2 linked regions of the Homo sapiens genome follow. The protein of the gene in region 2 purifies or fractionates together with the protein of the main gene of each other region. This does not show direct contact. Each region holds a gene or a part of one and is shown on either strand. Other genes may lie near its edges.

What was found.
Region 1: the proteins of DDHD2 (region 2) and CP purify together in Homo sapiens (affinity purification with mass spectrometry; one large-scale study listed by BioGRID and IntAct). This does not show direct contact.

The regions. Positions count from the first base shown.
Region 1 is NC_000003.12:149,174,147-149,176,895, reverse strand, and holds part of CP (ceruloplasmin precursor), read left to right. Parts: intron 1-483; coding exon 484-646; coding exon of another isoform or gene 647-658; intron 659-1,015; coding exon of another isoform or gene 1,016-1,032; exon of another isoform or gene 1,033-2,749. UniProt on the Homo sapiens protein: Multifunctional blue, copper-binding (6-7 atoms per molecule) glycoprotein. It has ferroxidase activity oxidizing Fe(2+) to Fe(3+) without releasing radical oxygen species. It is involved in iron transport across the cell membrane.
Region 2 is NC_000008.11:38,241,427-38,245,259, reverse strand, and holds part of DDHD2 (triacylglycerol hydrolase DDHD2), read right to left. Parts: intron 3,011-3,833; coding exon 2,875-3,010; intron 1-2,874. UniProt on the Homo sapiens protein: Diacylglycerol (DAG) and triacylglycerol (TAG) lipase required for proper lipid homeostasis in the central nervous system. It cooperates with PNPLA2/ATGL in neuronal TAG catabolism and hydrolyzes sn-1,3 DAG downstream of PNPLA2/ATGL.

The sequences.
Region 1 (2,749 bases), on a different chromosome or scaffold from region 2:
CCCAACTACTGTTTCCAGCCGAGACTCCCTGAAGTGCCTCTGGTTTTTGTCGTTTTCATCAGCCTCCTTTTCTGCTTCCTTTATTATTTACCTTGACTTAAAGCTTCAGACAAGCTAGGACAGATTCAGGCAAAAGTGAGGCTAGGGCTGAAATGGGGCCACAGCTGAGTTCCTTTTGTGTAGCTTAAGTGCTATGACAAACAGGCAAACCAGAATCAAGGTACAGGAGGTTTGTAGGTAGTCCTGATTGATGAATTCATTCTCATCACATCTTTCTTTCACACCCACTTGATGTGGATACCAAAGACTTATTAGGAATACAAAAACCACATTTTACCATTTGTATTAAACACAGAAACGAGCTCGATTTTTTAAAAACAGATTTATCCATTTTTTCAATATCCCTGAGCTGAACATTAACAAATGACATGAGTGAACTCTCATATACAATATTATACATTATTTGTCATTTTTCTAATTAAGCACAGGGGAGTTTATAGTTCTGATGTCTTTGACATTTTCCCTGGAACATACCAAACCCTAGAAATGTTTCCAAGAACACCTGGAATTTGGTTACTCCACTGCCATGTGACCGACCACATTCATGCTGGAATGGAAACCACTTACACCGTTCTACAAAATGAAGGTGAATATCCAGGTAGTAATTCTAGAAGCCATATATAAAAGATATAACTAAAGGAACTACTTTGCCTAAATACTTCCCCCAATATGATGCATCAATATGAAGCATTTGTGAATCTGCTGCCCTGATTTCTTCCTTCTCTACCTCCAAACAGGATTTTTTTCCTGCTAAATGGTGAGGGATACTGCTCATTTCCTGACAGCCAGTACTTGTAACAGCACCAGTCATTTCTAAGTTAATACAAATGTGTAATTATACTTAAAGCTGATATAAGGGAGTAGTCATGTTATTTACCAAGAAACAAACCATTATTTACATAAGACACATTTAGAATCTAATTTCTTTCTTAACAAAAAACAATTTTTTTTCTAGGTGGCACCTCCATGTAAGAGAAGCCCAAGACAACCCCAAATAATATAATTTCAAATAGGCAGTGTCTTTTCTGTGCTTCCAAGGGGAAGGAGGAACCTTACCGATAATTGTTTGTGAAAGATCCAGGGAAGAAACAAAATTTAAATGCACTGCTCCCCAACCCCTGCAATAACCCTCCCCATGTGTAGGTACACACACACACACACACACACACACTTAAAATGGAGAAAAATGAACAGTTTTTTTGGTAAGATTCCTGCACTGTGGCTGCAGGCTTTGGTCTTTCCTGGGTCTTTCGAGTTGAGGATTGTTGTAATTAGAAATGGTAAATTCAAAGGGAGGAAATTATGTAAAGAAAACCAATCTATGTCTTTCCTCCCTAAAATGGGGAAAAAGGGAACATACAAATGAAGAAAATATAAATGTAAATATATTTGAAGATTTAAAAAGCCCTGAAAGGTTAACCTTTAGTGCAAATGGAAAGTTTTAATTTCTGCTCCTGGGTCTTACACAAACAACTTACATCATGAAAAACTATTTCCATTAATGCCCTTTTTATTAGAGCAGTCACTGATAACACTAGAATATCAAAGACTCTAACAGACAAGCCACTAAATTTAACGCCAATAACTTGAACAAAGTGAAGAGAGCCAAATATGAGAAAGAAAACTTTAGTCTTTAAATAACACTTGCAACCATGTGGTTACATGTGGTTGCATGTAAACCACACAAAAGGATGGTCTTGCTCAAAAAAATAATGGTGAGTAAGTAACATGGAGGCATTTGGGGAATTCATGTGTGCAAATGCCTGGCATGCAGAGTATGGCACTACAGGGTAACCCTACACACACAGCCACAGAGAAGATTCCTCCTGTGTAACAACCGTGAAAGAAGAGGGAGATTACTGCTTGGTTAAGAAAGGCGAGATAGTTTTTAAAGCTATAGTAAAAATTACAGAACAAATAGCAAATATGAAGTAAAAATCAACACTAGATAAAAAATTAAAGAGAAATTTGACTTTTGCAAAGAGAAAAGGTATTGCATGAGACTGAAAGCAGCAGACTGAATAAAAAAAGATAGTTTGAACTATCTTTGGCCCATAAAATCAGTGGCCATGTTTATCAGTCTGAATCATCTTTAAATAAGTCCAATAAAGCTTTGAGCAAGTTTACATTAATTATGAGTCTTAGAAAAGCCTGCTTAGCTTTAAATTTCTTACAGGCAGGGACTATATATTCTGTATTTCTAGCTAAGTACCCAAATCCAATACAATAGTTTGCTTACTGAATGTATAACAACATATTAATTCAATGAAGAGAAACTTTTGAAACTTTTTTGACATAATTTCAGATTCCCATATACCTTTCACCCAGATTCCCCAAATATTAATGATGTGCGTAGCCACATTGGCTTTCTCATTCTTTTCCCTATCTCCCTCTCATGCTCACCCTCTATATGTACACACACAGACGTGTATAGATACACATACAACTATCTTTCCTAAAAACAAGAATATTCTTGTACATGACCACAATACAATGATCGAAATTAGAAAAGCAACAATGATTTAAAAACTAGAGATCTTCAAATTTCGCTAATAATCCTAATCATGTTCTTTACAGAAAAAGAAAATCCCGGATCATGTACTGCATTGTTGCCATGTCTTTTAAGTCTCCTTTACTCTGAATAATTCCTTAATAAAGGGCACTTTGTAGAATGTCCTTCAATTTGAGT
Region 2 (3,833 bases):
GGGTTTTGTCATGTTAGCCAGGCTGGTCTCAAACTCCTGACCTCAGATGATCTACCTGCCTCGGCCTCCCAAAGTGCTGGGATTACAAGCATGAGCCACCATGCCCAGCCCAAGAGAGACTTATAATAAAAGACATATCAACTAATTGCAAGGTATGGGCTTTATTTGGATCCCAGTTTAAAACATGTTTGTAATTATATAAATATGTATACAAAAATTAATGTATATAATTATATAATTAATGTATATAAAAATATGTATAAAATATGTATAAAAATATAATAGACAACTGGAAATTTGAACAGACTAGGTATTTGATGATATTAAGAAATTTTTAAGTGTGATAATAGTGTTATGGTTATACATTTTTTAAGTCCTTTAAAATATACTGTTCAGGGCCAGGAGCGGTGGCTCACGCCTGTAATGCCAGCACTTTGGGAGGCTGAGGCGGGCAGATCACGAGGTCCAAAGTTCGAGACCAGTCTGTCCAACAGAGTGAAACCCCGTCTCTACTAAAAATACAAAAAATTAGCCGGGTGTGGTGATGTGCACCTTTACCCCAGCTACTTGGGAGGCTGAGGCAGGAGAATCACATGAACCCAGGAGGCGGAAGTTGCAGTGAGCCGAAATTGTGCCATTGCACTCCAGCCCAGGCAACAGTGCAAGACTCTGTCTCAAAAAAAACAACAAAAAAAATACTGTTCAGGCCGGCGCAGTGGCTCACACCTGTAATCCCAGCACTTTGGGAGGCTGAGGCGGGCAGATCATGAGGTCAGGAGTCCAGCCTGGCCAATATGGTGAAACCCTGTCTCTACTAAGAAATACGAAAATTAGCTGGGCATTGTGGCGCATGACTGTAGTCCCAGCCACCTGGGAGGCTGAGGCAGGAGAATTGCTGGAACCCAGGAGGCAGAGGTTGCAGTGAGCCGAGACCGTGCCACTGCACTCCAGCCTGGGTGACAGAGCGACACTCCATCTCAAAAATAAAATAAAAAATAAAATATACTGTTCAGGCCAGGCACTGTGGCTCACACCTGTAATCCCAGCACTTTAAGAGGCCAAAGCAGACAGATTGCTTGAGCCCAGGAGTTCAAAACCAGCTTGGCCAACATGGTAAAAGCCCATCTCTACAAAAAATAGAAAAATCAGCTGGATTGGGCCAGGCATGGTGGCTCACGCCTGTAATCCCAGCACTTGGGGAGGCCAAGACGGGCGGATCACCTGAGGTCAAGAGTTCGAGACCAGCCTGACCAACGTGGAGAAACCCTGTCTCTACCAAAAATACAAAATTAGCCAGGCATGGTGGCGCATGCCTGTAATCCCAGCTACTCGGGAGGCCAAGACTGGGAACTGCTTGAACCCGGGAGTCGGAGGTTGCGGTGAGCTGAGATCACGCCACTGCACTCCAGCCTGGACAAGAGCAAAACTCCATCTCAAAAAAAAAAAAAAAAGATAAAAAAAATCAGCTGCAAGTGGTGCCACATGCCTGTAGTCCCAGCAGTACTTGGGAGGCTGGGGCAGGAGGATCATCTGAGCCCAGGGAGGTCCAGGCTGCAGTGAGCTGTGATCACACCACTGCACTCCAACCAAAAAAAAAAGATACAAACTGAAACATTTACAGATGAAATTACAGGATGTCTAAGATAAAAATCATATGGTGATGAAGGGGCATTAGATAAGGTATGAAGATACGGTTGAGGCAGAACCAGCCATGTGTTGAGGCTTGTTAGGGCTGGGTAATCAGTATACAAGGATTCATCATATATACTACTTCTGTGAACAAAATTATCTCTAATAAAAAAAAGTTTTCTAAAAAGACAAAACAAAAAATGTAAAAGGCTTTTCCTGGAATTCTCAGCAGTAAGGTTTTTTAATTACAGGTCAAACGATAAAGAGATCAGCTCCCTCTCTCAATGCACAATTTCTAAAAGCAGAAAAAGGTGTGAGTGCCAGGTGCCAAAAGCAAACAGAATTCATATCTGGGAGAGGAAGACCACGCTGACAAAATCTAACATCCAGTTAAAGGTTTCTTAAAATTCCCAGAAAGATTCCTCAAATATTCAACCACTTCTGCAATTTATAAGGGCTACGTGCCCTTAGTAACCTCTTAGCATCTGCTCAAATATTGAAGAATCCGGACCCCACCACAGTGTTTGGCAAACAGAATATACCCAAATCACAGGGTACTGAGAACTGAGACACAGAATCAGAAAAGCCATTTCTGAGACCAGCATGGAAACAATGCTGACTACTTCCTGCATCTCCTGGTTCTATTCTAGAACTACATTAGAAACACACTACTTGCTGGAGAGCCCCATAGCTAGATATCCTCAATTTAAGCAACATTCTCTGTCATTACCATAAAATTTACAAACAAAACTAATGGTCTTGTACCTTAAGAAAGCCATCACTTAAAAGTCACTGTACCAATTATACCTCAAGTTTTAAATGCTAGTAGTTTAATGTTTGAGAAATCCCCCCTTTTTTCTAAATTTGGACAAATATTATTTAAATATAATAACAAAAGGAACAACAAAATACTTTGTACATCTTGGGGTATGGCTAGCTTTTGACATCTGAAGATGGAAATGGTTATACACTATGGGAAGATAGCAATATTTGGCTTTAATGCTAAAGATACAATGAAGCTGTAACAGTAAATACTAGTGAGCCAGTAAAACATACTGAAGATACACACAGCTCTCCACTCCTAACCAGGGCTAATTAAACCAAGGGACTGATCAGCATTTAATAGCATATCTCTAAGAAATTTTAAATATTCAGTCAGCTATAGCATAAAAACGTCCCCAAGCATAGCAATGATCAGAAAATATAATCACAGCTAACAACTCGAAGGTATTAAGTATTACTCACACATCCACACCAGTAGAATGCAAAGGACTGTGCCAGTTGACTGGAAGAAATTCTACCCTCCCAATCTGCTGATTTTCTTGGGCTTTCTTAAAATGTGTCTGTAGCAAGTTCAAGGAAACACTGCGAAAATCATTAACTGGAAAAGAAAATTAACTTATGCATCAACAATGAAGTAACAAATCTGTAGAATCTGGATGCAACAAATCATGTAATTATACTCTAACTACATTTGCACAGAACACATACTGACTTCCGTCAAAAATAAAGTGGTATTCAGGAAAAATTATGAATGCATATAGGAAAAGATGTTTCTTTAATAACTTTTTTTTTTTGAGATGGAGTACTGCTCTGTAACCCAAGCTGGGGTGCAGTGGCGAGATCTCACCTCACTGCAGCCTCCACCTCACTGGTTTAAGCAATTCTCCTGCCTCAGCCTCTTGAGGATCTGGGATTACAGGCACATACCACCATGCCCAGCTAATTTTTGTATTTTTAGTACAGATGGGGTTTTGTCCTGTTGGCCAGGCTGGTCCTGAACTCCTGACTTTAGGTGATCTGCCTGCCTTGGCCCCCCAAAGTGCTGGGATTACAGGTGTGAGCCACCGTGCCTGGCCTAACAACTTGCTTTTACCATACAAAATATTTCATCAAAAGAAGGCTAACTTCAGGCCAGGAGCAGTGGCTCATGCCTGTAATCCCAGCACTTTGGGGGGCCAAGGCAGGTGGATTTTATGAGGCCAGGAGTTCAAGACCAGCCTGGCCAACATGGCGAAACCCCATCTACTAAAAATACAAAAATTAGCCAGGCATGGTGGTGTGCGCCTGTAATCCCAGCTACTCAGGAGGCTGAGGCAGGATAATCACTTGAACCCGGGAGGCAGAAGTTGCAGTGAGCTGAGTTTACACCACTACACTCCAGCCTGGGCAACAGAGCAAAGCTCTTGTCTCAGGAAAGAAAA